3 linked regions of the Homo sapiens genome follow. The protein of the gene in region 2 interacts with the protein of the main gene of each other region in a pairwise test. Each region holds a gene or a part of one and is shown on either strand. Other genes may lie near its edges.

The links. Proteins that work in one complex are often made in the same cells at the same time.
Region 1: the proteins of ZSCAN12 (region 2) and VLDLR interact in binary tests that used the Homo sapiens proteins (3 or more experiments, as listed by UniProt).
Region 3: the proteins of ZSCAN12 (region 2) and PGBD1 interact in binary tests that used the Homo sapiens proteins (3 or more experiments, as listed by UniProt).

What each region holds. Positions count from the first base shown.
Region 1 is NC_000009.12:2,652,787-2,659,786, reverse strand, and holds part of VLDLR (very low-density lipoprotein receptor isoform a precursor), read right to left. Parts: coding exon 6,838-7,000; exon of another isoform or gene 6,777-6,837; intron 5,955-6,776; coding exon 5,919-5,954; 3' UTR 1-5,918. UniProt on the Homo sapiens protein: Multifunctional cell surface receptor that binds VLDL and transports it into cells by endocytosis and therefore plays an important role in energy metabolism.
Region 2 is NC_000006.12:28,389,445-28,397,138, forward strand, and holds part of ZSCAN12 (zinc finger and SCAN domain-containing protein 12), read right to left. Parts: intron 3,637-7,694; coding exon of another isoform or gene 3,603-3,636; coding exon 3,458-3,602; intron 2,299-3,457; coding exon 1,010-2,298; 3' UTR 1-1,009. UniProt on the Homo sapiens protein: May be involved in transcriptional regulation.
Region 3 is NC_000006.12:28,276,630-28,284,571, reverse strand, and holds the start of PGBD1 (piggyBac transposable element-derived protein 1), read right to left. Parts: upstream 3,001-7,942; 5' UTR 2,654-3,000; intron 817-2,653; exon of another isoform or gene 797-816; 5' UTR 759-796; coding exon 363-758; intron 1-362. Other genes in the region: ZSCAN26 (zinc finger and SCAN domain-containing protein 26), read right to left, coding at 7,476-7,942.

The DNA of each region.
Region 1 (7,000 bases), on a different chromosome or scaffold from region 2:
TAACTGAGAAATACCCAAGTCTGGTAGTTCTACCAATCTGGTATATTCCAGAATACTTAAGATCCAGTGCTGGAGTTATAGCATCATTGAGTTACAAGCCACAGTTCTTCCTGTCTTTTTGGCCATGTTTCTCCCTATAGGAGAGCCTTGAAACTTAAGATTTGTTGTGGTACAGTTTGTTTTCTCCCAATATCTTATACATAGGAATGAAGTTGCCTGCTTATAAATTCCTTTAGGGAATCTTTATCATTTTCTTTGCAATCCAACAATCTACTTCTACTTCACTTGGATGGCCAAGGAAAATAATTCTGGAATGTCTAGCGTCTTGAAGGTATAACACGTAACTGAGTTAATCTGTGCTGACCTGATGTAGTAGTGCTAGTAGTACACTTCCATTACACCACCATACTGGATGCCAGCCATAGCTGGCATCTGAGAAACTGTTGAAGGATCCTAACATCAGCAATGAGGAGGACTCAGCAAACATGCAATGCGACATCCAGCTCAATCTTTGTACAGTACTGCATCCCCTTCTAAGAGAAGACGGCAGTAAGCACATAGGATTTGGAACCATAGATTGTTTGTAGCCTCAGTTTTTACCTATGTAAAATGGAGATACCTATTAGGGTTGCTGTGAAGAGCAAGTAAAAGACTTGGGAGCACTTACTTAGTACAAAAGTAAGCATATGGTAAGAATTTAAAGGAGATTTTAAGTGCTTTGGCAGCCATCTAAAGACTATGCAGGCTCCCAAATATTTGTTTCCATGTCCTAGGAGGTAGTCAAAAGAACTGAGGCAGAAACATTCCATTTATGTTTCTAGGGTTTAAACCATGCAGTCTTTTAAGCCTTCTTAAGTATGCAAGATGCTATCACTCCTTAAATATCAGACTTAGATCTCTTCAGACAGGTGTAGTGGAGAACACTTCGGTCACCATCTAACACATTACATTCATCATAGATAAAGGTACCTGTGACTTTCACCGGTAAAGTCACTTACCGGTGCCTGTGTGTGACAGTAAATACAGCCCTAGCATTGATGTGATATTCAGTAGTGACATCTGCCCTGCACATATTAGATGCCAGACACTGTGCTGAGCTTTTTGTGTGCATCTCACTTAAATCTTACCTTGTCACAGTGAGACAGTCCCCATCGTCTCTACTTTACAGAGGGAGTTAGTAACTTGCCCAAGGTACCACACACAAGACACGGAAGTCTATGCTGTTAACTACATTGCCTGCTGCTTCTAAACAGAACCACCTTGTCACCCATCTGACTTTTTCCTTGAGCGCAGTGAAGAAAAAAGCCATTTTTGATATGCCATGAGGTAACCTGCGGAGCACAAACTCCCCACCCGCAGCTGGTCTCACTCCTGTCTCAGTGTTTTTGCATTGAGATTTTTACAGTGAGATTTACAGGAGAACACTGGGTCATGGTCCTACTTTGTTCTTTTTCTCATTAGCCAGGCTCAAAAACGTGAAACGGACTCAGGAGACATGATAGAGAGATGGAACACCACTGTTATCAGTTTGTTAGTAGCTTATTTATCTATGGATCCCTAAGTTTCATATCTAGAGCCTCACTGGTAAAATGCATTCAGCTTTCCTGTGTGAAGGTAGATGTGAAAGGGATATGCAAAGATGGCTGATAATCCTTCACATGCAACTGTTTCGGCTAAAAATCCTCCAGGCTGGATTAGAGAGAAATAAGTTCGAAAAACGCCATTGTTCCCTCTTCAGATTCATTCCCTCCATATTTGGAAATAAGTACCTTTGAAGATTTTTGTACTTTTATATATTTCTGAACTCTCATAGTTTAGGCCCATGATATGGCTGAAGCATGGATGTACAATTTTTAGTTTTCCCAAGAAAAATCATACTTGTTAGGATATTTACTCGAGTAGTTTTTTAGTATTACAATTCTAGAAGAGAAGTCATTATAAGCCCCTTCTGGCCTTAGAGACTATATAATACCAAAAATACCTAAAAACCTTTTCTTTAAGAGAGTGAAATCGCTTGATGTGCCCTCCCACTCCGGTTAGATGCTTAACAGACGACAGCAGACAATGCACCTCAACCAGGGCTAAGTGTGCACACTTGGCCAGCAGCCGCCAACAGAACGGGCAGCAGCAGCAGTTAGCACTGACGCAACTATCGCTGCTATTGCCACTACCATCTCCCCACTAACAGGGCTTGCAGAATATGTAATACCCAGGGGATTATATATATGTGGTTTTTAGGCACCGCCTCATCACCCACAATAAGGGAAGCTTCTTTCTACTCTTTAGCTAGTTGCTGCTCCTACTTGTTAGGAGTTTGATGTATCAGACCCTTTTGAGAAATGTCTATGTCACAACTACGTTCAGGATAAAACAATTATGAAACTGAAGGGCTCAGATTTGGGGATCAAGATTAGCAGGTTGTATTCATAGTACTTCAACTTAAATTAGCAAAAGTATATCTGCTTTTTGCAAGTTTTTGCCACCATTGAAAGCAAACAGTATAGCTTTCATTTGGATTCAAAATAATAAATTGTTTTACTTGGGTAAGATTTCACTAGTAAGAATTCTAGGAAATTATTCCAGTTAGATTACGTAATAGAGATAAGTGACCCCTAGAATCTTTAGGTTTGGGGTAAAGATTGTTAAAAGGTAGACTTTAAGTTGGTCTACCATTTCTACAGTGTTCTTAACTGAAGAGTTAGTCTTTTAATACCCTGTAGTTTGCTATTTAAAGCTTGGCTTCTCATTTTTGAGAAGGGCTACTTGACTTCCACAGATACAAGGAACAGAAGCAAATGCCAAAGTGAAAGCCTCAATTTTTTTTTTTTTTTTTTTTTTTTTTTTGCCTTGTATTCATCAAGAACTAAAGAGGCAGCGATACCTAGGCTTTAAAACACCTACTAGAATGTTTTAAGGGAGCTAGTTGAACAACTGGGACTATTTTTTTGCCAAATAGATTAGCTTGCAAAGGGCACTTAAAAATTTGGACAGAGGAACTTGGCTGGATTTCTTTACCAGAGGCCACAAATCTGTTTATTCATCTATCATCAATCTTTGTGGCAATTCCTAAAATTTCTGGAGGGTCCACTTTCACTTTGTGTGACAGGCTCATCTAACTCCAAATATTCTCCTTTAGTGTATGATAAGCTTCATATTTTACCTCTTAATTATCTTCTACATTGAACTCTAGAGACAGAGCAAACTTATCCTAACACATTTCACATAGAATTCAAGTTATTTTTTGGGTGATAAAGCCGAGGCCTGTTATCATTCATGCACTATTATTGCAAGCTGTATTGACTAGTAGTTTAGTCATATAACTATTTTTTTCTTTTATTTTTATAAATTTTTTTTTTGTAGAGACAGGGTCTCACCATGTTGCTCAGGCTGGTCTCGAACTCCTGGCCTCAAGTGATCCTCCTGCCTTGGCCTTCCAAAGTGCTGGGATTATAGGCGTGAGCCACCATGCCTGGCCCACCAATATATCTATTCTTATTTCAATAGGAATATCTAGTTACTTTGTTTCTACAAATGAGTTTGTACCTCGTAGGTACAATGAGTTGTACCTTGGCTTCTTACTGGGGAGGACGTGGTAAAAAAAAATGAGACGTTTTAGACTCTTTGAGGGTTGGAAATTTTACCCAGAACATGAAAGAACATACTAGGGACAGGAATTCAAAAGATGATGATAGAGAATAATACTTTATTTGCCAAAACAAACTTTGGGCCTTATAATTAATTAATACTGTATAATCCTTATAATGGGGAAAGCAATAGTATCAAACTTCAAGCTTCTAAAGGGAATTTGGTATTACTCCAGTTAAAAAAAAAAAAATCCATGTTTTTTGTACCACAGCAGGGTCAGAGCAGCAGCCAAACTCTGAAATGGCTTTCAGAGTTCATGATGAATGCTAACCTACTTACCAAACAGGCACTTCAGCTACTCACTGTCAGCAGGCCACATCCTGTTCAGTGTGATGACTAAATGTAGAGTGAGGAAAAGGTGGAGAGCAGACAGTTCTATATTCATGACTACAGCCTTTTCCTTCTACATGCTTGACCTCCAAACCTCCCATGAAAAAAAAGTCCAAGGCTATCTTTTCTTTTTCATTCAGTTGACCAAAATCACAAGGGGGCATCCCTTAAGACAACAGAACCAACTTCCCCTTCATCTAGTAGGATTAATGTCCTTGCTTAAGCCACAAACAAGATGTTAACTGCCTTATATTTCATATGCAAGTGAAATATGAGTCATCCACTGATTCACGTAGCAACGCAAAACATCTTCTCTTCATCCTCTTGGTACTGTGTTGGTCGGTCATTTAATTCCAGAGGAATTGCTGTACCTTCCACAGCCAACTCTCCACCTCACTTGTGACACACAGCATGCACCCGGTGCTTCAAGTCTTTTGTCTTTCCTTGCTTCCAGACATCCTGAGACTTTAGAGAAAGAAAGTAATGGCCAACCTGATGGAAAATTCACTAAACTCCCTGTACAATTTTTTCTTTGTCTCAAACTCCTCATCTGCTCTTCATACTGTAAGTTCCAGAAATTGTCCATAGTAAGAATCTGCCCCATCCCAGCCAGGATAAAAATTTAGGTGATATTGCAATTATATTCTTCATGAAGTCACAGTAAAACGGTGGTTTTTAAGCTTTAGTTTACATCAGTATCGCCTGAAGGGCTTATGAAAGCAGGTTTCAGCCCTCGCCCCCAGAGTTTCTGATTCAGTAGGTCTGGGATGGGGCTGGGAACTTGCATTTCTAATACATTCCCAGGTGATGCAGATGCTTCTGTTCTCAGGACCACACTGAGAAACCTGCCTTAGACTGTTCAAGAATGCCATTGCTTGCTATCCTCCCTGGCCATCTTCACAGTAAGACAGTCTAGACTTTCATAAGAAGAAAGCCCTTATCCATGCCTTAGAAGGCACTTGTCCTTGACCTATATAAATGACAGAACATGGAAAACAGAGACTTAACTATAAAGAAGCAGAATTCATAGAAATCTTAGCACGTGTTTCTCGATCAGGAAACAAGTTAATGGAAAAAAAAGAAACTCACTCCTCTAACCAAGAGGAATTCTAGGTACAGACTAAGCTAGCTTCTTTTACACAGTAAGAAATATTTCGGGAGCAAATGTTAAACAGTACTTCATTTTTTAACTGTGCTAGGGTGTAAGAGAAACCAGCCCAATTACAGGCTTAGTTATACAACATCAAGAACTACAGCTCACACATTTAGTTAGAACACTTGGTACTACTCAGGATAGGAGTTCATCCTAGAGGAACAGGCACAAACCATGGTTAAGCTGCTTGGTTTAATTTTTTAGCACTTGAAAAAAAATGTACAGTAGTTTGAACACTCAGTCTTTGCAAACCTCCATTGAGGTCAAAGATATCATTCATACGTACAAAATTAGTTTATAAATTTTTTTGGCAATTTCATCTTAGTAACCCGTTTTGTCCTATTGCCATTGTCCCAACCATTGAAAAAGTTTACAATAATTTACATAGAAATATTTTCAAAGTGCTTAAGAATAGTGATTGTTCTCTGGGATATTTACAGATGGCCTATACAATGTATGTACAGGTGGTATACACTATAGCACAAGTTTCACTGCTGGAATATGGCTTTCTAGGGAAAGTGCATATTTGGCCAGAGGTGGCAATACTGTCTAGAAATTCAAGGGTTACAGATACTCGGTAACCACATCCAAAGCTGAAGTAGAATGTGGACAAGAATATTTACAAAAGTAATATAAAAACGGTCAAGTACACAAGCTTGATCCACGCAAAGGTATCTTGATGTTCTTCCAGCCGAGAGGAAGAAAAAGAGACTTCAGCTGCTGGCTCGGTTACCATTCCGACGGGGGTATTATTTGTTTAGACCTCAAAGGTCAACATTTGTCACAGAAGTCAAGCTAGATCATCATCTGTGCTTACAACTGATATCTGTGGAAAAGAAGAAGTATAGAATGAGCTTGGTGATCACTCACTGATGGCAACTCTAGTCTTTAAAATGGACCTTGCTTTTGAGTTGGTCATTCAAACACTCAGAGTGCTTAGAAGAAAAGTCAGTCAGATACAAAAGAATACTGAGTTGTATCATTCATGCATTTAACTTGAATTCAACTATACCTGCTTGGTAGTGAGATAAGATAGTGTGACTAATTCTGTCTTTTCTACTTAATGATCATAAGTCTTGGGGAAAAATGTGAAAAGCCATGTGTGTGTCAAGAATTGACCACTGTTCCATGTTTCACCGGAGTTTGAGAGGGGAGTGATCAATACTTGTTTTGTTCAGCCTGTTTCCTACGTGAAGGCCAAATACTCCACTTGGGTTTCATCTGAAGAACAAGTGAGTGACTATTGCTGGAAGAAAAGCTAGCTATACTAAGGGCGGTGGGATACCTTTTTAAAGCAAAGCATATAATAATTTTGGCTAAGTGAATCTTACTCAATACACTGACTTTAAGCCAACTCCCCTATATATGATATGCTAATTTACTTTCAAATATCCAGTAGGCAATGGATTTAATAGTTCAGTAATGAGCTACTTGGTTCATGCTAGTATTTACATGTCATTTCTATAACCAAAAATATCTTAATATAGTGGTGACTTTAAGTTGACCCACTTGTCAGTTGGTGAGGGTTAGATGCTGATCAACTGAGTGACTTATGTTCTAACAGGCTATACTGTCTGTCTAATAGCCAGGTAGCAGATGAAGTGTTTGGTAACTCCATCATCCTAATGGCTCTCTCTCTCTCACCCAGGTCTCCTTTCTGAAAAGTCTCACTTCAAGCCATGGTGTATAAAGACACAAAGCTGACTTACTGCTGGGTACGTGTGTCCAACAGAAGCACTGTGTCTACCAATGTCTATGGAGAGGTCCTCTTCAGTGGTTTTCAAGTACACAGGATTGTCAAAGTTCATGCTTTTCATGTTCTTGTGTTGCCAATTCCGCCACATCAAGTAGCCACCTACTGCTGCCATCACT
Region 2 (7,694 bases):
TCAGGCTTCCCCACTTCGCAGACAGCCATGAAGTCAGCTGTCATTCAACTCAACGCTTCTCAAATTTTAAAGTATATTAAGTAACTGTGGAGCTATAAAAATGAAGATTCTCAACTCCCATCCTAGGCCTAATGAAGCAGAATGTGAGTGGGATTCAGGGATGTTAAACAAGCTCCAAACATGATTTTGATGTTCATCAAAGTTGGAGGATCACTAGAGTAATGGCCAGGACTAGAAGTCAAAAGACCTGCACTTAGGTTACTGGTCTTTTTCTTTGTGTGGGATTATAGCTATGTTGCCATCTCCATAGGCAAGAGTATTCTCATTTTTAAAATGGAGAATGCTTTTGATTTACCAAGGTATTTTAGGAATTGAGAAAAGTGCTCTGTAAATGTCCAAGTGCTATAAAGTATTAGATGAAATTATTCACACTCTGGCCCTCTTATGTGTCTGTCCCCAAGCTGTTTCCAACTTAATGCTATTGATTGCCCAATTTGCACGAACCTTTTACTTCAGGTTGGCTAGTCTTTTCCCTGATGCTTCCAAACCACATGCACTCTTATGATGGCTTACATTTGTTTTACCCGCTTTCTCCCTTTTGACTGCTAAGTCTGCCCGTCAAATCCTTATTTTAAATAAAATCTTTCTTGACCACTCCAGGCAAAAGTAACCTGTCCTTTAGAATTTACAGCACTTATAGTCTGTTACAAAGTACCACTTTCATTCGACACCATCTGGTGCATCAATTCTACTCTCCTGTAGTCTTATATGACTAAATATGTGGATCTTATCTATCCCAAACTAGGCTACAAACTCTCTGAGAAAAGAGTTTGGGGTTATCTTCTTGTTCTCCACAGCACGTAGTACAATGGGCAGCACACAGTGAATTCTTATTAAATATCTGAGGTTTCCTTATAACAATGGTGACTGAAGTTTTGCCCCAATAATTGTAAAGCTAAATAGTATTTCTCACCGGCCTGAACTCTGTGAGATAACTTCCCTGTAGTCATCACACAGAAACAGATTTTTCTCCTTTGTGGATAGTCTGATGTTGAGTAAGAGCTGAGTTCTGCCTGAATGATTTCCCACACTCTTTACATACATAGGTACCACGTCTATTATGGATTCTCTGGTGTTTACTAAGATCTGACCTCTGTCTGAAGGCTTTTCCACACTCATCACATTGGTAGGGCTTCTCCCCAGTGTGGATTCTCTGATGCTGAATGAGGCTGGTGATTCCTCGGAAGGCATTCCCACACTCATCACACTTGTAGGGCCTCTCTCCAGTGTGGATTCTCTGATGTTCCGTGAGGACTGATCTTTGAGTAAACGCCTTCCCACACTTATCACATTTATAGGGTCTTTCTCCAGTGTGAATTCGCTGATGTTCTGTAAGACTTGTCCTTTGAATAAAGGCTTTTTCACATACGTCACATTTGTAGGGTTTTTCCCCAGTGTGAATTCTCTGATGCTGAATAAGGCCACTCTGACTGAAGGATTTCCCACATTCCTTACACTGATAGCATTTTTCTTTGTGGTGGATTTCCTGATGGGAAACAAGGGATGAGTTATAAACAAAGGCTTTTCCACACTCGTTGCACTCATACGGCTTGGCGCCGGTATGAACTCCTTGATGCTGAGTAAGTATGGAACGCCGACTAAAACTTTTATTACACTGAGTGCACTGATAAGGTTTGTCTCTTGTGTGGATCTTGATATGGTGAAAGAGGCCTGCTTTCTGACTAAAGGCTTTGCCACAGTCATTACAGTGATAGTGTTTTTCTCCTGTGTGAAGTCTCTGATGTTGGTTAAGAGCTGACCACCGGCCAAAGGCTTTGCCACATTCATTACACTTATACGGTTTCTCTCCAGTGTGTATTATTTTGTGTCGAATAAGCACAGTTCTCCCACGGAAAGCTTTTCCACATTCTTCGCATTTGTAGGGTCTATCTCCAGTATGGATCCTCTGATGTTCTATGAGGTGTGAGTGCTGACTAAAAGCTTTTCCACAGTCATCACATCCGTAAGATTCTTCTCCTGGACAGATTCTCTGATGTTCAGTATGGTCAGAGTTCTCAGTCAGGCTTACTCCATTTTCATCACAGGTAGGTTGTTTATCTTCTCTGGAGCAAGCAGAGGGCTCTTCTGTTATTTCTTCAGGTTCACGAGTTTCTCCACACCTAGCAGACTTGGACATATCATTTTCAAATTTACTGGATGTCTTCCCATGTGGTTCCATTTCTTCAGAAACTTCTTGCTTTAAATTCCCATACTCATTTCCAGTCTCAACATCTAAAACTAAGAAGGGATCATAAATGTTACCTCTTTCTACCTTTAAAATGTATCCATACATTTTAATATTAAGCAGCTGTTTAGAAATAAAAAATGCAAGAGTCTACCATCTTAGTGATAAAGAGAGCAAAATATATTTGTTTCAATATGGAAAACATATGCATCAAAAAAATATCTGGAAGGACACACGAAAAATTAGTAACAGTTACAACCTATTTCAGAGTAGGAGGAAGAGACTAGGTGGCTGGGAAAATCGAGTAGAATAGAAACTTTTCATTAAATAACTTAAAAAATTTTTGTTTTTGAGCCATGTACATTTTTACCTACTTAAAAAATTAAATGAAAATGAAAAGGATGCAGAGAAAGTAGAAATAAGGTAGCGGATCTTTCACACATTCACCAACTTTTAATATTTTGCAACATTTGTTTTATTATTTTTTCTTTTTCTTTTTTTTTTTTTTGAGACAGTCTTGCTCTGTTGCTCAGGCTGGAGTGCAGTGGGGTGATGTCAGCTCACTGCAACCTCCGCCTCCTAGGTTCAAGCGATTCTCCTGCCTCAGCCTCCTGAGTAGCTGGGATTACAGGCACGCGCCACCATGCCCAGCTAATTTTTGTATTTTTAGTAGACACGGGGTTTCACCATGTTGGTCAGGCTGGTCTCGAACTCCTGACCTCGTGATCCACCCACCTTGGCCTCCCAAAGTGTTGGGATTATAGGCGTGAGCCACCGCACCCAGCCTGTTACTCCTTTTCTTTGTAAGTATACAAATTTTTTTTTTCTTGAACCATCTGAAAGTTAGTTGCAGACATAATGGAGCAAAGGCTTATTTAGTGAAGCAGAAAGGATATAGTGCAAGTGGAAGATAGAGGTATTGTCTGATAGGATAAAGGCTAAAAATAGCAAGGAGGTCAGTATAAAGAGAGATAAATATCAGAAGGACTAAATTAAGTGGTAAAGCCAGAATTTAGAAGAATATGAATATACAAAAAAGTAAGGGTTGAAGAGTGACAAACTAGGCTGTCTGAGAGTCTATATATGAGCCATCAGATTCTGAGACGGCCTTTTTGACTTTAATGATCAGAAACAGTAGCAAGTACAAAAAAGCCCCAATGTCCTATGTTACCCATCTTCCCCTTCCTCCCAAGATGGGTCTTTCTTCTTTACCTTGCTCCTGTTGGGATTCAAGTTCTGGAGATTCATACTTTGGCTGGGCTTTCATGGACTGGAGGGACATACTGGGTTCTCCTTCTTTTCGTAGACGTACCGTCTCCTGCAAGAACATTTCCTGTTCCCCAGTGTGGACTGAGACCTGAGGAAAATGAGATGTAGCTGACAGACTCACTCTGATAACAGAAAACAAAAAGTATACTATTTGTGGCAGTGGCTGAACCCTGAAATGACCTTTTTCCCAGATATAAGCCTGCCATAACCCTACCCATTCTTCAAGGCCAATATAAATGTCGCCTCCTCTGGGGAATCTTCCCTTCTCCACCCAGATGTAATTTCTCCTGTTGTTACCGCTAAAGTATGTTGGTTGTGCCACTGTTACCTCTTTATCTTATGCTTAAAGAAGTGGAGAAAGGAAAGGGAGAAAGACAAAACAAAGGAGAGAAGAAAAAGGTGAAAAGAGGCAGAAAGGAGGAAATAAGATAGAACTTAGGGTAAAATAAAACATTAAGAGAGAAAGAGGAAAAGGAAAGGGGATATGTAAAGGTAAATAATGTAGAGAAATGATAAAAAAAAAAAAAAAAAGGCACCCTTGGGATGCCATGGTGGGAGGATTGCTTGAGGCCAGGAGTTTGAGACCAGCCTAGGCAATATAGCAAGACCCCATCTCTCCAAAAAAATTAAAAATGATCTGGGCATGGTGGTGCACATCTGTAGTCCTAACTACTCAGGGGACTAAGGCAGGAGGACTGCTTGAGCCCAGTTCAAGGTTATAGTGAACTATGATTACACTACTGAACTCCAGCCTGGGTGACAGAGACACTGTAGCTCCAAAAAAAAAAAAAAAAAAGGTTGAAGGGAACAAATGAGGAGAAAGAAAGGGAAAAGAAGGGAAGGAGAGAAATCTCTTCCATATTCATTCCCTAAGCTGTTCCCAATAGTCTCTGCTCTTCTGAGGTGCCCGTCCCACTTCTCTCTGGGAAGATTATCTTATTTTCTATTTATCCAAGATCACAATCATCTCAAAAATCATCTACTCTTCATTTTATCTATCTCCACCCTCATACTCCTCTCCATTTCTTCTATCTTAGGATGATGTCTTCTCTTTTTCAAGGCTTACGTCTCTACTTTTGCCTTCAATCCCATCACTTTTGGCTTCTCTCTGACCCTTGCTCCCTCAGTTAACTCATTTATTCAATTTCAGCCACTGGGTGGCTCCCATTCTTCCATGGGCTTATTTCCTCTTGCATTTAAAAATAACAGGTTTCTTCAGCAAGGTATTGTAAAAAGCAGGGATTTGGAATCACATGGATTACTTACTCTCTCTCTTAGTCTAGTAGCTCTGTGACCTTGGGCTAGTTACTTACTCTCTCTGAGATTATAAATAACATTTGTATAAACCACCTTGCACAGGGATTGGCATACAACAGGTTCTCAAATTACTCCCCCATTCTCTTCAAAGGTTAAATTTTATAACTAAGAAATCACCATATACTGCCTCTATTTCCCTGATACATTTTCATTTTGTAGCCTCAGTCTTCAGAATAAAAGCGAGAGTCAGCAAAATGCTATCTCAGATGTATAGAAAACGGTGTTTTGATATCTCATATTTTGAAAAAAGAAAGCCGGGGGAAAAGGCCAGTACTGCGAGCTGTGCCTTCTATTCTGGGATCTCTGGTCAGGCCTCAGAAATCAAGCTGTAAACTCCATTATATGCCCCTGCAGTGCTTTCAGAGAAAGAACTGGTTGGCAATACAAATTCAGCACATTTAAAACCAAATTACTTTTGTCTGCATCTAAGAATCCCATTCTTTGTACCTCCCTAGCTACTCTGTTTCTACTGCTCATTACTCCCTTCATGATCTCATCCTATCTCGTGGCTTTAAATACTATGCGTATTCTGAAAAGCCCCAATTCTGTAGTTCTAGCACAGACCCTTCCACTGAATTCCAGTTTATTATATCTAGTTGTTTGCTCAACTTTTCTGCTTGGATTCTAATAGGAATCTCAAAATTAACATGTCCAAACCCTGTTTTTTTTGTTTTTTTGAGGCAGAGTCTCACTCTGTCGTCCAGGCTGGAGTGCAGTGGCAAGATCTTGGTTCACTGCAACTTCCGACTCCTGGGTTCAAGCGATTCTCCTGCCTCAGCCTCCTGAGTAGCTGGGATTATAGGTGCCTGCCACCACACCCAGCTAATTTTTGTATTTTTAGTAGAGACAGGCTTTCATCATGTTGGCCAGGCTGGTCTTGAACTCCTGACCTCAGGTGATCTGCCCACATTGGCCTCCCAAAGTGCTAGGATTGCAGGCTTGAGCCACCGTGCCTGGCCCAAACCCTAAGTTTTGATTCCTGTCTTTCCACCCCAAACCCACTTCTCTCCCAGTCTTTACCATCTCTATGAATGACAAATCCACTCTATCTGATGTTCAGACCAAATACTTCGGCATAATCCTTAACTTACTTTCTCTCATATTCCACATTCTATATAAAAACAAACCCTGTCAAGCTCTAGCTCCAAAATATATCCAGAATCCAATCACATTTTACCACTCCCACTGCTACTATTCTAGTCCAAGTCACCAATATCTCTTGCCTGGATTATTGCTTATTATTATTGCTCCTAAAATGGTTTCGTTGCCTCTACCTTTTACTCCTATGGCTACCCCAGCCCCATTGTGGAACTTTCTCACAGTAGCCAGAGTGACTATTTTAAAATTCAAGTCAGATTATATCTCGCTTCTGTTCAAAATTCTCCAATGACTTTCCATCTCAGAATACAATTCGAAATTCTTATAATGGCCTACAAGTTCTGACATAATATAATCTTATAAGCATTTTATTTCATCTCCTCCTTGACAACCACATCTCCACCATGATAAGTACATTCTCACTTTAAGACCCTCTGCCTGAATGCTGTTATCCCTGATAGCTTATGGCTTGCTCTTTTCATTCAGATTTCTCCTGTAAATGTCACCTATCTGAAAAACCTTCTCTGACAAGTCTACAGAAAACAGCACAATCCCCACTTATTTCACTATTCCTTTTCTCTGCTTTTATTGTTGTTGTTGTTTGAACAGAATTTATTACCACCTACATCTTGTAGGTGTTTGTTGATTTTTTTTTTTTTTTTTGGAGATAGGGTCTCACTGTGTCGCCCAGGCTGGAGTGCAGTGGTATGATCGTGGTTCACTGCAGCCTCGATCTCCTGGGCTCAAGCAATCCTCCCACTTTAGCCTCTCAAGTAGCTAGGACTACACACACCTGCCTGGCTAATTTTTGTATTTTTTATAGAGATGGGGGTCTCACTATGTTGCCCAGGCTGGTTTGTTGATTTTTAATTTACTATCTGTCTCAGTGGACCAGAACCTACATGAGAGCAGCAACCCCTGTGTTTTGTTCGCTGTTGCATTCACAGTGCCTAAAACAGTACCTAGTCCAAACAGACATTCGGTAAATATGTGCTTAATTGTTTCCTGCAGTCTTTAACTTTGTTAGGAGTGTCTCCATTATACTAGTCTTTCAAGCTTAAAATCCCTAGTGTTTAGCTTAGAATACATTGCTCTGTAAAGAGTTCTCCATTGGTTCTTCCTTCTTTATTTAATAGAGCTAATCTGTCATCACTTCCAAACAGTTCTTACCTAAGACATGCCTCATCCTTGGTAATCACACTTTCACGATCCTATTTCTTTTTTCTGTTTGTTTGTTTGTTTTGTTTTTTAAACGGAGTCTCACTCTGTTGCCCAGGCTGGGGTACAGTGGCACAATCTCGGCTCACTGCAACCTCTGCCTCCTAGGTTCAAGTGATTCTCCTGCTTCAGCCTACCAAGTACCTGGGATTACAGGCATGTCCTGCCACACCCGGCTGACTTTTGTATTTTTAGTAGAGACGGGGTTTCACCATGTTGCCCAGGCTGGCGTTGAACTCCTGACCTCAGGTGATCCACCTCCCTTGGCCTCCCAAGCGCTAGGATTACAGGCATGAGTCACCGTGCCTGGCCTCATGATCCTATTTCAAACTTAGATATTTTTGCCACATGTTCCTACCCTCTCTATTGCATTTTGTATCACAGTGCTAGATTATACTTCTGTTTCATTATTTCCCTAAGTTTCAAACTCTTTATACCGGGGTTTCCCAGCATTGGCTCTACTGACATGTTCCTAGCATTGGCTCTACTGACTTTGTTGTCTGGGGCTGTCCTGTGTGTTTTAAGAGGTTTAGCATTAGCCTTGCCC
Region 3 (7,942 bases), 110 kb from region 2:
ATCGTACCACTGCACTCCAGCCTGGTCAACAGTGAGGTAAAGGGATATAGTGTTTGCAACTGACTCTCAAATAGATTCAGGAAAAAAAAATACTGCATATGTGTATGTATGTGTGTGTATACATATACATATGCATCTTGGGGGGGGGGAATGCACTTCCTTGTACGAGTGTGTACACAACAATGGGACTTCATCAAACAAATGTTAACAACTGGCAAATTTGGATGAAGAGTTTTACGGGAGTTCTCTATTCTTCTAATACTTCTATAAATTAGGAGTTATTTCAAAATAAAACGTTAAAAATAAACCGATACATGTCCCCCTTTTCTTCTCCCACATCACCACACACATTCTCTTCCCACCTGTTGTCCTGTGTCTCCACTTCCTGTCTCTAGATTCTCCAGCACTGTCACTGCCTCCTCTCCACTCTCCAGAGGATATGTCTTCACACAGGGCTGGAGCTCCTTGGGCAGGATGGTCAGGAACTGCTCCAGCACCAGCAGTTCCATTATCTGTTCCTTGGTGTGCATCTCCGGTCTCAGCCATTGATGACAAAGTTCTCGGAGTTGGGCCAGAGCTTCCTGGGGTCCGTGAGCCTCCTGGTAGCAGAAGTGCCGAAAGCGCAGGCGGCAAATCTCCTGAGTGTGGGAGCTGCCCTCCTGTGAGTTGCACACCTGCTCCCAGGTGGGATCTTCCTCCTTCACTTTCACAAGGCCATCTTCATTTTCAGGAGCAGGGCCTGGCAAAGCTTCATACATGTTGAGCTTAGAGGCTAAAGCTTCACTTAGCTTGGGGTCTATATTCAGAAATAGAGATCTGAGGCATAAGAATTTATCAGCAACATGCAAATTATAAGAGCTTCAAAACTGTATGTAACCTACTTACATTTTTGTCCCCACTGTAGGTAATGCTCAAAAGCTGAGCCTGCTTGCTTCTATTATCAGTGAAATGAATCAGAAGTATATTTTGAACTAGTACTAAAGGGCCTGAGTCCAAAGGTAAGGGATGTAGGACATGAGGGAAGAAGTGTTAGCAATAAGAAAGCTCGAGTAGCTTGCACTTCAGCTGGGGAGAGGGGATAATTTACCCATTGAGGAGGCAGATGGCTGCCTTCATGGACAAATAATACAGTCTCAAAGGTCTTCTATATCTGTGTAACTCTCATTGAATATTCCACTTTAAATGTAGGTGTAACAGAATGTTTCCAAAGTCTCCCATTCTCAAATACCTTTTGTGATGAGATTTTGCCACTGTTGTCATTCAAGGGGTGGAGTCTCTTTTTCCTTCCCTTGAATCTGTTCTGGCCTATGACTTGCTTTGACCAGTGGAATACAGCAGAAATGACATTGTAAGAGAGAGTGCTGCTGTAGCTCTTGGCTCACTGCCATAAGACTGCCATGCTGTAAGGAAGCCCAAGCTAGCTATACAGAGGTCATGTGGATGAGAACCAAAATGCCCAAGTTAAAGCCCAGCCAGGCCTAGTGCTCAAATAATTCACCACCTGAATGCAGCTCTATTAGTAACTCCAGGTGAGACCAGTAGAACCGCCTAGTCAACCCGCATAATCCTGAGGAACAATAAGCTGAGCTTGTTTTCAGCCACTAAGTTTAGAGTTTTATTTTTGATGCAACAATACATAACTGAAAAACAGTAGACATGCATCAAGTTCTTTTATTCCCTCTTTTCATTTTTTCCTTTGTGATCTCCTTAGTCACACTTTCAATATATCTCTGTTCCAAGAAGACTCAAATCTTTGGCACCAGCTTGCTTTTTGCACTCCAAACCCACATCTTGAAATGCCAGCAGCTGTGGGCCTCTACTGCACTATAATTTCAACAGATCTCAAACTGAAATCAGAGTCCCTCAAAGCTGCGTTCACTCGGTATTTCTCCATTTCTACTGGCATCACCATCATCTTCCACGCATTCAGTCTTTTAAACAGCCTCTATACACAATCAGTGAGTCAATTCTTAAAAACGCCTCTTGCAGCCATTCTTTCCTTCTTATAATTTTACTATTATTTTCATTCACTGTTACAATAATGTTCTGTTACGGTATTCCTGCCCAACTCCCCGCTTCTATGGTCACTGGATTAATATTCCCTAAAGCACAGTTGTGACCATATTCAACATACCTCACACACACATAAACACACACAAAGTTTTCATTAAACTCGTTGAAGTAAATTCAAACTCCCCAGGATCTAATCTTTACTGGGTTTTGCTGATTTGTTTGTCACTCAATCAACATTTGTGGAGCATCTCATTATTTTCCAGGCATAAAGTTAACTCTGGAATAAAAGACTTGGTTCCTGCTTTCAAGAAAGCCATGGTCTTCCCAAATTTCTTATGTCACTGCCATGCTAAGTACTCAATTTTTTTCCACCCACTCTATACAGTCAGGACCGCCCTTCTAAGGGTAAATTCCCAAGGCCCAGCGTAAATGTTCTATTGTAAAACCTTCCCTGGCAACCCCTAACCCTAACATATAGACAGGAAAAGTAAGCCACACAGGTTGAGATGGGGTATTCCCATAGAAAACTGCACCCAACCCTCATCTCCATCTCGTATTACAGATCACCAACCCCATCCCCACCCGGGTTCTTGAGGACAGGAGTTTATCTCTGCATAGACTCTACATGCCCGGCACGTACCTGGTATTCAAGAAATACTGATGGGCTTCTTCACGAATGCACGTAAAGCACCTGAGATGCCAGCAGCCAGCACCCTCAGGCGCGCCCCTGAATGTATTTTTCTGAGATTACACCCAGCATCTAGCACCGCGCCAGGCACTGAATACCGGCGTGTCTAATTGTTGGTTAATGGACCAAAAGTTCAGGAACGCGCACAACAAAGACGTAGCTGACCTCGTGAAAGGCTCCCGAGGGAGCTCAGAGGCCCGGTGCTCCCCTGTCGGGAGCGCCGGTTTCCCCAGAGCCCGGGCCGCTGGGCTGGCGGGTCTGGCGGGCGCTGCCGGCGCCTCCAGCAGCTGGGCGGGTACAAAAGCTTCTCCCTGCGCCGCGCCCGCAGCGGAGTGGCGGAGTCTGGCGGGTTCCCTGCCTCTCTAGGAGCACGGCCGCTCGTCTCTCTGGTGAGCCGGGAGGACCCCCGCTGCCACCTCCTGCCCCGCCCAGGTCACTCTCCGCCGCCGGACCCCAGGCCCATTCGGACGGTGCAAGCACGCCCCAAATTTATGTACATCATTTCGATTGAAAACCAACACAGTGGTAAATGTCTGTCTTCGGGGTCATCACTGGCTGGTAGGAGAGACAGATCAATAAAAAGACCATTATAGTAAGCTGTACAAATTATTTTCTTTAAGTATACATAATATATGTACAATAAAAAAGTCAAGTTGCAAAAGGACCATAAAACGAAAAGTGTCCCCTCTTTAGAGTTAACCATTGTATTTTGTTCATATTTATCTAGGACACTACCTGCCACACAGTAGCACTTAATGAACATTTTGTTTAGTGAATAAGTATTTATACATTTTAAAACACTTATGGTATCATAATGTAATTTTGCACCTTAGCTCTTTTCGGTTAAGACAACTTGGAGATCTTCACAGATCAGCTTATTCTTTAACAGCTAAGTAATACTGTATGAGTGTTCCATAATTTACTTAACTATCCTATTGATGCATACTTAGGTTATATTTTTTCTTTAAAAGCAATGCTAGAGGGAACACCATTCAATACCTTTACATTCTTTTAAGAATATATTTCTAGGATAAATGCCACATATTAGAACTGTTCAGCCAAAGGACACGTGCATTTAAAATGCTGATATGCAAGTTCCCTATTTGATTTTTAAGGGCACTTCTGTTTAAGAGTAAAAGGAGACTTTAGTAGAAAAATTAGTAAAGGATATGAACATTACTACACACAAGATAAGTGACAAATTAACATGTGAAAAGATGTTCAATAGTAAAAATATAAAAAACTCTTTAAAAAACAGACCCATTATTTATTCATTTACCTACTGAGTTTTGGCAATTATGAATAAAGCCGCTATAAACATCTGTGTGCAAACTTCTGTGTAGACACTGGTTTTCAGCTCCTTTGGGTAAACACTAAGGAGGGCGATTGCTGTATCACATGGTAAGAGTATGTTTAATTTTGTACGAAACTACCTAACTGTCATCCAAAGTGGCTGTATCATTTTGCATTCCCACCAGCAATGAATGAGAGCTCCTGTTGTTCCACATCCATACCAGAATTTGATGTGTCAGTGTTCTGGATTTTGGTCATTCTAATAGATGTGTAGTGGCATCTCACAGTTGTTTTAATTTGCAATTTCCCTGATGGGATATGGTGTGGAGCATCTTTTCATATGCTTATTTTCCATCTGTATATCTTCTTTAATGAGGTGTCTGTCAAGGTCTTTGGCTCATGTTTGAATCGGGTTGTTTCCTTATTTCTGAGTTTTAAGAGTTCTTTCTGTATTTTGGATAACAGTCCTTTAACAGATATTTCTTTTGCTGTGGTATATGCAGACAATGGAATATTATTCAGTGCTAAAAAGAAATAAGCTGGCCAGACACGGTGGCTCAAGCCTGTGATCCCAGCACTTTGGGAGGCTGAGGCAGGTGGATCACTTTGAGCTCAGGAGCTGGAGACTAGCCTGGGCAACACAGTGAAACCCCATCTCTACTAAAAATACAAAAAATTAGCCGGCCGTGGTGGTGTGCGCCTGTGGTCCCAGCTACTCAGAAGGCTGAGGCTGGAGAATTGCTTAAACCCAGGAAGCAAAGGTTGTAGTGAGCCAAGATCGTACCACAGCACTCCAGCCTGGCCAACAGAGTGAGACCTTATGTCAAAAAAAAAAAAGAAAAAAAAAAGAAATGAGCTATCAAGGCATGAAAAGATATTGAGAAAATTTAAAAGCATATTACAAAGTGAAAGAATCCTGTCTGAAAAGCTACATACTGTATGATTTCAACTACAAGTTGAGTATCCCTTATCTGAAATGCTTGGGGCCAGAAGTGTTTCCAATTTCGGATTTTGGAATATATACATACATTATGAAATATCTTAGGGATGAGGCCCAAGTCTAAACATGAAATTCATTTGTTTCATATATACCTTACTCACATAGAGCTAATTTTATACAGTTTAAATACTTTCGTGCATGAAACATAGTCTTTTTTTTTGAGATTGAGTCTTGCTCTGTTGCCCAGACTGGAGTGCAGTGGCACAATGTTGGCTCACCACAACCTCCGCCTCCTGGGTTCAAGCGATTCTCGTGCCTCAGCCTCCCAAGTAGCTGGAACTACAGGTGCATGCTACCACACCCGGCTAATTTTTATATTTTTAGCAAAGACGGGGTTTCGCCATGTTGGCCAGGCTGGTCTCAAACGCCTGACCTCAGGTGATCCACCCACCTTGGCCTCCCAAAGTGCTGGGATTACAGGCTTGAGCCACTGCACCCAGCCGAAACAAAGTATTGACTGGATTTTGTCTATGACCTGTCACGAGGTCAGGTATGAAATTTTTCACTTGTAGCATCATGTTGGTGCTGAAGTTTCACATTTTAATGCATTTTGGATTTTGGGTTTTCAGATTAGCTGTACTCAACCTGTATACATGACATCCTGGAAAAGGCAAAACTATAAAGACTGTAGAAAGGTCAGTGGTTGCTAGGGGCTGGAAAAAGGGAGGGATGAATAATAGGTAAGGCACAGAGGATTTTTAGGGCAGTGAAACTATAATGGTGGACACGATATTATGTATTTGTCCAGACCCATAAAATGAACAATACCAAGAGTGAACCCTAATGTAAACTATGGTCTTTGGGTGATAATATGTCAATGTAGGTTCATCAATTGTAACAAATGTCACCCTGGGAGGGGATGTTGATAATAGGGGAGGCTATACATGAATGGGAGCAGTGGGTATATGAGAAATCTTTGTATCTTCCTCTCAATTTTGCTGAGAACTTAAAACTGCTCTAAAAAATGGTTTATTAAAAAAAGCAAACCATTTTGTACACATCAGATTGTCAAATATTCAAAAGAATAATTCCCAGTTTACGTGGGTATAGAAAATTGGGCATTATCATAGGCTGCTAACAGGGTGTACAAATTAGTGTAACTTTTCTGGAGGGCATTCTGGAAAATGCATCAAAAGCCTTAGAAAATATGCCTACCTTCTGCCTCATTGATTCTCATTATGGGAACTGAACAAAGAAAAAAATTCTGTAAGTAGGCAAAGTTGTATATACAAGGATGTTCACTGAAAAATTGTTTATGGTGATCAAACTGTAAATGACGTAAATGATGAACAATGGGGACATATACCATAGAATACTGCACAGCTTATATGGAAAATTATCTTCCACAAACACTTTAAATAAATCTGCAGGGATTTGTTTGAAACCTTTATTAGAAGGAAACAGTATTCTATGGACTCCCAAGACCAGGATATATATGGATTGCAGAGGCTGAGGGCTGAAGTTGTCACTCTGGTGATATGTTTTGGAGTGGACGCCCCTAATTTTAATATTCTTCATCTGTGACATTCTGCTATTCACAGTATAAAGATCATGATCTCCTCTCCAAGCTGACTTTATTGTTTAACTTCCGAAGTATTCCAGAACAAGCAACATTTCAAAATTGCATCATCAGTATTAAAGGGAAAAAGTCCAATTTCTTTCATCAGACATTTACTGAATAGTGTCTATGCAGCAGCCACTATACTGGCACTGGAGTTATCAAGTCAGACAGTTGCTATTCAGATTAATTCAGCAAGGTTCATTCAAATTACTCATGAAATCTCTTTCAAAGTCTAAGTAAAACGTTAATTTATAACTTGAATCTTGACATAATGTGGTGGGGAATGGGGATGGGAAATGGTAAAATTACATGAAGCTAACCCTGAAGGCAAGTTCTGAAGTTCACCAGCGAAAATTATCTTTGCTTTTGAAAATGCTTCCACTGGGGAAGGAAGGGGTAAGGCCAGTGGGAGGAATGAGGTGAAGCCACTGGGGGAAAATGTTCACCATTAACCTGTACTTTAAAGACACCTTTGAGAGTAGTATACTTCCAAACATCATCAGTTTTATTTCATAGGAGAAAGCTGCTATAGCATATCCAAAAATATCAATCTTCCCTTGTTCTGCTTAAGCCTGCAAATCTGTGGGCACTTGATTCACTGCTGACTTCAAAACTCTTACTCAGTCATGAAGCTCTCTATTGCTTAGAGTATATAATCATGCAGTTATGTTACATGCTCTGAGATGTCCTGCAGTGAAGAATGCTGTTTAACTTTGATCCTAGCATATCATCTACAGTGAAATTATTGTGGTCCAAAGCTGACTTCAAGGAAAGCAAAGGAGAGAGAATAGAGGCAGGGAGCCTCCAACTCAGCCCCCAAGAATTTTCTGATGCCACAGTGGGCTACGGTGACTTTTCCTAAAGTGCTGTTTGCTAGTCAATGTGCCTTCTCTGATGTTCTACAAGGAGAGAACACCTCATCAAGCCAGTTTGTCTTTGTGGTGATATCTCTGATGTTGAAAAAGACCTGACCTTTGCCTGAAGGCTTCTCCACATTCACTACACTGATAGGGTTTTTCTTCATTGTGGATTCTTACATGCTGAGCAAGGTGTGAGTTTAGTCGGAAGGCTTTCTGGCATATGTTACACTTGAAAGGTTTTTCTCCAGTATGAATTCTGTGGTGTCGAATAAGGTCTGAGGTCAAACTGAAAGCTTTTCCACACTCGTTACATTGATGGCTTTTGGAGTGACTATGGATTCTCTGATGGTGGGTGAGGAGTAAGGCCTGACTAAAGGTTTTTCCACACTCCTTGCACTCACAGGGCTCCTCCTGACTGTGAATTCTCTGATGTCGATTAAGGTGAGAGCTGCGCCTAAAATTTTTTCCACAATGGATACATAGATAAGGTTTCTCTCCAGTATGAATTCTGAGATGTTCCAAAAGGC